Regions from separate parts of the Homo sapiens genome. Here region 2 is linked to region 1. Evidence: fine-mapped expression QTL. A gene starts in region 1. The other region holds a variant in brackets. All regions are shown on one strand. Distances are between the middles of the regions. Region 1 holds the start of NOL4L (nucleolar protein 4 like). Region 2 overlaps NOL4L (nucleolar protein 4 like).

Region 1 (4,379 bases):
CCGACCGGGCCGGGGGCGGAACGCACTAATGGAGGGTCTCGGCGACGGAAAGTTCAAAGCTCAGCAGCGCCCCGGGAGCGGCCGCCCCCCCCCCAGCCCCCACCCTCTGCAGAACAATGAGGTCCCGGCGGGGGAGCCGCGGGGCCCGCGCCGCACGCCCTCTCCAGGGCGCCCCGGGCCAGAGGGGACGCCCCCGCCCGGCCGCCCGCCTCCTCCCTTTAGGCGGCTGCGGTTCCCCGCCCCCTCCCCCACGCCACCCCGCCCGGACCGGGCCGGCCCGGGGGACGGGGGAGGGGAGGGGATGGATAGGTCAGGCCTCCCCCGTCCCATGAAGGGGGAACGAGGGGCCCGGGGGGCTGAGGGGGCGCCCCACCCACCCGCGGGAGGCTGCTCCTGCGCCAGGCTGCGGCTCCGGCCGCCCCTCCCCGGGCCAGCCCCGGGTGGGGTCGGGGCGACAGTGCCCGGGCGGGCCCCCTCCCCTGGCGCTGGGAGGCCCGGCGGACTCCCCGTCCCGCGGCTGCCCCTGCCTCCCTCCCCCCCCCCCACCCCGCGGCACCACCCTCCGCGCGCGCACACACACACACACACACACACACACACACACACACCGCCCAGCCGGCCCGGGGGCGGGAGCGCGAGGCGCCCGGGACAGGCAGCCCCGGGGCGGGCGGGGGGAGGCTCGGGCTCCAGAGCAGCCGCCTGCTGGCGGGGGGAGGGGACAAGAGGACGGAACATGCTGGGGTGAGCAGCCCGGGACAGCCTGCCCGGCACGGCCACGGCCCGGGCAGCGGCGCGGAGGGGGGCAGGGACGCCCCGAACCCGGAGCGCTGCCCAGGCGAGCCGGGAAGGGCCGGTGAGCAGGGACGCGTGCGCCTCCGGCGGGCCCGACACACGGACAACCTCAGGGACACACGTTCGGACACACATCCACACCCCCACCCCGCCCCCGCCCGCCTGCCCCAAGCCCCGCGGCGGGACCCGCCCGCGGCCGCCGCGCGCGCACTCACCGAGCCCGTCTTGACCGGCACATACACCACTTGGCCCATCTTGGGTTCCCGGCCGCTGCCCAGGCGGAAGCCCTTGGAGCGCACCCAGAACTGGAACTTGCCTTTCTCGCCGGCTGCGGGGCCGCTGCCCGCGCCAGTCCCGCCGCCGCCCTGCAGGACCTCGGCGATCCGCTGGTATTTGCTGCGTGTCACCGTCTTGGTTTTGGCCGAGTCGCCGTAGGTGCGCAAGCACCAGTCCCGGAACTGGCGGCCCAGCTCCGAGTCCCCGGGGCTGCGCTCGCGCTCCCAGCCCCCGCGCAGCAGCAGCGTCGGCTTCGGCATCCTCCCGCCGCGCCCGGCGCCCTCGGGGGCGGGCCGGCCGCCGGGCCGCCCGGTGCCGGGACTGGGCTGGGCTGGGCTGGACCGGGCCGGGACGCGCCGCGGCCGCGTCTGTCCCGCGGTGTGGCTCCGGCGAGGCTGCTGGATGGGCGCGGGCGGCGGCCGGACGCGCGGGGCTGCGGCGCGCTCTGTCCTGCTCGGGCGGCGGCGGCGGCGTTGGCGGCGGCGGCTCCGGCTCGCCTCCTGCTCCGCCTCCTCCTCCCCCCGGCCGGGATGCAGGAGCGATGGAGGCAGCTCCGGGCCCGGAGGTGCAGAGGGGGCGGGCCGCCCCGCGGGCGGCCGGGGGAGGCGGGAGGCGGGGAGCGGCCCCGAGCGCTGGGAGCGAGACCGAGCCTGGGCGCGGGCGGCAGCAGTGGCTGTCAGCTTGCGCGGCTCATCCTGCTCTTGCTCAGGCTCCCGCTGCCGCGGCTCTTCCTCCTCCTCCTCCTCCTCCTCCCGCGCCCGCCTCCACCACGCCGCGGGATCCCACCTGTTAGAGCGGCGCAGCCTTCGCCGCCGCCCGCCCCCCCCTTCCTCCTGCGCCCGCCCGCCGGGCCCAGCCCCCGCCCGGCCCGGCCCCTGGGGGCGCGGGGGCAGCCGCGCCCGCAGCCGCCGGGAGGGCAGGAACCACAGGCGCGCAGTGCCCAGCCCAGGAACCGCGTTCCGTCTGGCCGGGCCGGGCCCGGAGCTTCGCAGGCCCCGCTCCTCCCGGACGCGGCGGTCCCGCGGGGAGTAGGGCGCAGACCCCAGCCCAGACGCCGACCTCCCGGCCGCCCCGCCCCACTTAGCCAGGCCGGGAAGGTGTAGGGCAGGCTCCCCCTCCCTCGCTCCCGCAAGTGACTTGACCTCTCCCGTGAGCCGAAGCCAGAAGAGCAGTGTTCCCCTGGGGGAACCCCACATCGCCGCCCTTCGGGGCCCCCAAACTTCCTCTCCTTTTGCCTCACCCTGAATTCCCCGAAGTTTGGCCAGCTTTGCCTCTGCTTGCCTGCCCCACTGCTCTGGGACAGGCCCAGGCCCCCTGGGAAGTCGCCTGTGGCCTCAGCCCAATCCCACCTCCGCTTCAGAAAACTCTCAACACATCCACAAACTCATCCTGAGACACCCTGCCTTCCTGAGTGCGCCTTGACCTAGAATCTCTTGCTGAGTAAACTCAGGTAGCCCCACCGCCCCCCTCCTACCTGGGCAGATCTGACCTTGGGTAGAGCTAGCTGGTCCCCTCCCCCTTAATGAAATTACCAACATAAATAAAGGCACAGGCCAATTCCCCAGGATTTCTGTGCCCCTACCCCCCACTTCCTTAACAGGTCATGAGGAATTGCTGCACTTCTCTCCCAGCTGTCCCCGGGGGTCCACCCCATGTCCCCATGACACTCCTGCAGGCAAGTCACCATCCAAGTCCTGAGGCCCAGACTTTGTCTAGTGCAGGACCGTTTCCTGCGTAGGAACTACTGTCTACTCCCATCCCAAAGTCCCCCACCCCAGGACCTACTACGTGCCATGTCCTGGCAACTCTGAGAGGCAGAGGGAATGGCTCCATTTTACAGACGAAGACCTGGGGCTTGGAGAGGTGGCCTGACCTGCTCAAGGTCATGCAGGAAGGAGGGGTGGGTTTCAGCTCATGTGCATCTGGCTGCTGCTGCCATATCACACACAAACTCTTCCCCTTTCACCGCGCTCGGAGAGAGCCCCACGCTGTGTATACCTGGCTCACTTCCCCCAGTAGACAGGGAGCTCCAGATGCTCAGGGCCATATCTGACCCATCCTCATATGCACAGGCCCTAGCACAACACCTGGCACACAGTAGGTGCCAGTAAATGCTGAAAGAACCCTAGAGGTCTCCCAAGCCCCAACCTCTCTCTGCATTTCACATGGGAGATTATTTTTAGATAATTTACATTTCATGTTACTTTATATACACCAACAACTCCACAGTCATTTTTCCTCTTTATCTTCTCAAGAGCTCTTTTTGGATCTATGCTGGTATGCATGCCCGTTTTTAAGAGGTGACCACTCAGAGCGGGGAAGGCACTACCCAAAGGCCAGCCCCAGGGGCGCAGGGGCTTCTGTGATTAAGAAGCTCAGACCCTGACTTTTTCCATGTGTCCCTTGACGGTTATCCTTCCAGCACACTCTTCCTGAGAGCAGAGATGCTCTAGCCTGGCAATGGTAATGATAACTGTGGCAAATATGCCCTGTGCCTGGGTGGTGGGGTCCTTGTGTGAGCCCTGGTCTCTCTGTCCAGTTCCAGGACCCACTTCAATAACCACTAAGCCGGACCACCTCTCCACCCAGGCTGGGTCTTTGCCTGCCTTTCAGAAGCTAAAAACCTGGTTGTCAATCTTGGGCTGAGTTCTGGCACAGCAGAATGTATAGTATAATGAAAAGAACATGGGCTTCGGGTGGAGTCAGATTTGGAAGTGAATCCTGATGATTATTTGGCGTGGCATTCTTCATGCTCACAGGTCCCACTTGGCTACTTCACAATGGAATGAAGCCATCATTCCACCCTTTGCTGGGTAACCTCAGGCAGGTCACTGAGCCCCTACTTCATCATCTGTATAGCGGGACAGGATGTCACAGATGTAGAGATTCAACAGGATGAGAGTGCCTGAGCTGTGACGGGTGCCCAGTAAGTGCCATTTTCTCCCTCATGGGGCCTCGAAGTATTCAAGGAGGAAGACAGGCATTGTTGGCACTTTTTGTGCTTCATTCATTCAACAAACATTTGTTTAGCAGCCATTGTGCAGCAGGGGCTTGGGATATGGTCATGGGATCCCCAAGGTCCCTGCCCTACGGGAGTGCACCAATGGGTATGGAAGATGGCTATTGAACAAACCAGCTATTGATCACAACAGCCCGGGGAATGGGCCACGAAGGAAAGAGAGAGCTGTGATAGCAAATAATGCAAAGAAGGGGCTGCTTTTCTTAGGGGGATCAGGGAAGGCCCCTCTAAGGAGGTAGCATCTGAGCAGTGACTTAAATGACAGGTGCCAAGGCATGCTGTTCCTGCATTC
Region 2 (4,379 bases), 120 kb before region 1:
GGGGGCCCAGACTCTCCAGCTACCAAGACCTTTGCCTCGGGGCTGTGCCCCCGGCTGCCTGGCTGGGGATCGACAGGCACTAGTGCCGGGGCAGAACCTCCCCTAACTGCACTCAGATGCCACCCTGGTCTGGCCAGGGAAGTGGTTGGGCGGGTAAGACCCGTAAGGCACCAGGTGCTAGGACCTCGTATGGCCAAGTGTTCCAAGCTGTTAGAAGAAACTGGAAATCTGCACCATTATGTAAACAGATTTTAAAATATTGGCGACTCAGTTACATGGTTTACTTTTTTTTTTTTTTTTTAGGGTCTTGCTCTGTTGCCCAGGCTAGAGTACAGCGGTGCCATTAGGGCTCACTGCAACTGCTGCCTCCTGGGCTGAAGCGATCTCCCCAGCAGCGCACACCACGACGCTTGGCTAATTTTTTTTTTTTTTTTTTTTGAGATGGAGTTTCACTCTTCCTGCCCAGGCTGGAGTGCAATGGGGCGATCTTGGCTTACTGCAACCTCCACCTCCCAGGTTCAAGCGATTCTCCTGCCTCAGCCTCCCAAGTTGCTGGGATTACAGGCGCCCGCCACCATATTCAGCTAATTTTGTGTATTTTTAGTGGAGACACGGTTTCACTATGTTGGCCAGGCTGGTCTCGAATTCATGACCTCAGGCGATCCGCCCGCCTCAGCCTCCCAAAGTGCTGGGATTACAGGCATGGGCCACCGTGCCCAGCCTCGGCTAATTTTTAAAGTTTTCTTTTTTTGTAGAGAACAGGTCTCGCTATATTGCCCAGGCTGGTCTCAAACTCCCAAGGCTCAAACCATCCTCCCACTTTGGCCTCTCAAAGTGCTGGGATGACAGACGTGAGCCACTGCGCCCAACCCATTATTTATATTTTTAAAAACTTCGACAAGTAAATGGGTACACAAATGTGGTCTATTCATACGATGGAATAGTATCCAGCCATGAAAATGAATGAAGTTTGGATAAGCGCTGCAATGTGGATGATAAAAACACGAGGCTGTGGGAAACAGGCCAGACGGACAAGGATACTCAGTGATTCCACTTCTACGCAGCATCTGGAACAGGCAAATTCACAGAGACAGAAGGTACAGTGAGGCTCCACGGGCTGGGAATGGGCAGTTAGTACTTAAAGGGTGCAGAGTTTCTGTTGGGGGATGAACAAGCTGTGGAAATAACAGTGCTTCTGGAGTGTACACTTAAAAATGGCAAATTTTATGTCACACATTTTACCACACACACAGAACCCAGACCAAAAACAGCCCCTTTGCCCTAGTTTATAGGCTCTATCTGCCATTATCTCATTTTCTCATGCCGCACACACAGAGCCTACTCAGAGGGACAACATGGATCGCGAAAGCCTGCCTTCCCCAGTGACACCAAGGTCTCGCCTACCCCCAGCTCCGCTCAGGCAGCCCCGGCATGCCAGCCCCCACCCCACACAGCTGCCCCCGCGCCACATGCTCTGGGGGCTGCCTGCAACCTGAGGCCCATGTTTTGCCGACTGGGGAGGCCACAGGTTTGAGCCGCGGAGTGGCTGGAAGAGGCTACTCCACCTTCTGGAGCCTCCGTTTCCTTTCAGAGTGGGTCCCACAGCCGTAAAACACGGTTCTAAGGTGAGGATGGTGCCCGAGATGGGGCAGGAGCTCAAAAGGAAACCCCAATTCCCTGCACCCCACATTTTCTCACATCATAACTCACCCACTGCCGACGCACGAGGCTCCCAGACTGCAACGGGGGCTTCTGGGGATCCCGGAGCCCAGCCTGTGACAGTCTGAGGTGGGCCCAGTGAGAGGGCCACTGTGGGGATGGGGGCAACTGCCACCCTCGGAGCTCATGCTCCAGCAGCGACAAATCAAACCTGAGGGCTCCAGAGGAGACGGGGCTCTGAAGGGGTGTCACCAGCTTTCTGGCCCCTGAGCCATGGTGTCTCCCCTACTCTCGGCGACTCCTGCTCGCCCTTCTGTGCTAACCCGAGCACCACCACCTCAGGGAAGCCCTCCCTACCTGCCCCGATCTCCATCGTGGCACCGGCTGTGGGCCACGGCTCTGCAGAAGCCATCCCAGGGACGGTGGGGCGAGGGCTGAAGCCTCATGAACCAACAGGGGCAGAGGTGCTGCTCGGGGTGGGGTTGGTCCAGCCTGTCCCTCGGCCCCACAAGCAGTGGATTTGATGCCGGCTGCAGCCGCAAGGGCTGAGTTTACTCCAACTGGAAGCCAGGTCCCTCCTTTGGGCCCACCAGGCCCTTCCAGCGAGCCCCTATGGCTCACCCACCCGCCCCAGCTGTGACCCAGCCTTGGTACTTGCTGTTCCCTCTTCCTGCTCCACTCTGTCCCGGGTGTCCCCTTGGCGCAGTCCCTCACTTCCAGGGCTCTGCGTAAAGGTCACCTTCTCGGTAAGCCCAGCTCCCACCCTGCTCTGGCACACTGACCCCTCTACCTTTCTTTTCTTTTTTTTTTTTTTTTTTTGAGACGGAGTCTTGCTCTGTTGCTCAGGATGGAGTACGGTGGCGTGATCTCGGCTCACTGCAAGCTCCGCCTCCCGGGTTCATGCCATTCTCCTGCCTCGGCTTCCCGAGTAGCTGGGACTACAGGCGCCCACCACCACGCC[T/C]GGCTAATTTTTTATGTTTTTAGTAGACATGGGGTTTCACCGTGTTAGCCAGGATGGTCTCGATCTCCTGACCTCGTGATCCACCCACCTCAGCCTCCCAAAGTGCTGGGATTATAGGTGTGAGCCACTGCGCCCAGCCCCCTCTAACACAGTAGTATTGCAAGGAGAGGATAAGTGCTTGGAAGAAATTACCTATTTCTTCCAAGCACTTATCCTCTCCTTGCAATACTACTGTGTTTATTGTGTCTCTGGCCTGTGCCCAGCCTTCACAGAAGCGGCCCCAGCCCTAGAGACCCAGAGTTGGTGCAGCTGTATTGGGTGGGCCTGGATGGCTCCTGCTGCCCCCTAGATCACACCCCTCCCTCTGGTGGGGGCAACTGAGTCTTCCTGGGCTCGCCGGGGTGAGTGCATGCCCCAGGCCTGGCCAGTCAACCCATCACAGCAACTGGTAATAGCGTGTGACCAAGCTGGGCCCGAGGACATCACGCGGGGACTCCTGCTGCGATGGCTGGGAAGGTGCTCTCTACCTGGGGTTGCTGGGCCCGTGGTGCAGGGAGGCCCACGCTGGGGAAAGCAGGGCTGATAGGGGGCACAGATGATCCCCTGAAATCCATCTGTGCCTGCCACCTAGGAAGGCCCTAGAGGTTTTGGTGAGGGAGCTAATAATTTCCTTATTGGTTAGGCCGGCTAGAGGCAGGCTCACACCAATGGCTTGGTCTCTGAGTAGTCCAGGGTCTTCTCCCTGGCAGAGGCCAAGGGATGGGACCCGGGGGCTGGGATCGCTCTGCATGGGGACCTCACCATGACGCCCAGCTCAGTCCTGAGGAGGCTGGTACCCACAGGAGGGGGTGGTGCCCACAGGAGGGCTCATGCCCACAGAAGGGGCTGGCTGCAACCCTCACACCCACCCCTCACTGCACCTGGCCAGGAGAACGCGCCTGTCACTGTTTGGGGAAAGAAGGAAAAGAGAGACTGGGGGCAGTTGGGTTTTGATCCGATTGGAATTCTTCCTCCCACAACCCTTAAAAAAAAAATGGATTTAGGCCAGGCGCAGTGGCTCACGCCTGTAATCCCAGCACTTTGGGAGGTAGAGGCAGGCAGATCATGAGGTCAAGAGATCGAGATCATCCTGGCCAACATGGTGAAACCCCATCACTACTAAACATACAAAAATTAGCTGGGCGTGGTGGTGCACGCCTGTAGTCCCAGCTACTCAGGAGGCTGAGGCAGGAGAATCGCTTGAACCCGGGAGGTGGAGGTTGCAGTGAGACAAGATCGCGCCATTGGACTTCAGCCTGGCGACAAAGCGAGACTCTGTCTTAAAAAAAAAAAAAAAAAAAACTGATTTAAAAGAGACATCGACAGGCGCACAAACCCTTGCTGTGATGGAATGCAGTGGGGCCCGGGCAGGGATGGTGCTGGTGTAGGGTCCTGCAGTCTGGGCGACCTTGGGCACTGCCACCTCCTGGGCCTCCTCTTATCTACAGTCCTGGGAGTTGCCGCTGACGCCCTCCTGGGCTCTGGCACTTTATGACTCTGTGAAGAAACCCAGCTGGCTCCATGGGCACCGAAGCCCCAGCACACAGGCCTCACGGGGTGCAGGCCTCCAGCTGGGAGGCTCAGTGGGAAGCTGGGAGTTCTGGATGGACCCTCCACACCTGGAGCTGGAAGTGGAACCTAAGGGTGCCCAGGTGACCTCTTGTCCCCACCTGGTCCCCATCTTGCTGCTTCCATGAGGCCCCTCCAGGAGGGTCACCCT

The links. PIP is the estimated chance that this variant, and not a neighbour inherited with it, causes the effect.
Region 2: its variant is the best candidate, but not a certain one, in a credible set for the expression of NOL4L in whole blood (TOPMed, PIP 0.64).

Annotation. Positions count from the first base shown.
Region 1 is chr20:32,583,563-32,587,941 of GRCh38, forward strand. It overlaps NOL4L (nucleolar protein 4 like), which reads right to left and starts at 1,771. Exons shown (of 11, transcript NM_001256798.2): 1 at 1,008-1,771. The coding sequence starts at 1,328. NOL4L-DT (NOL4L divergent transcript) reads left to right here and starts at 3,917. Exons shown (of 3, transcript NR_034152.1): 1 at 3,917-3,994. RefSeq lists silencers at 64-283, 394-443, 504-713, 744-943, 1,284-1,333 and 3 more and an enhancer at 2,344-2,423.
Region 2 is chr20:32,458,963-32,463,341 of GRCh38, forward strand. All of the region lies in intron 5 of NOL4L (nucleolar protein 4 like), which reads right to left. Among named protein-coding and RNA genes, the nearest start is that of NOL4L-AS1, 100 kb to the right of the region's middle. RefSeq lists an enhancer at 1-371. The variant T/C (reference allele first, on the strand shown) is at 2,621.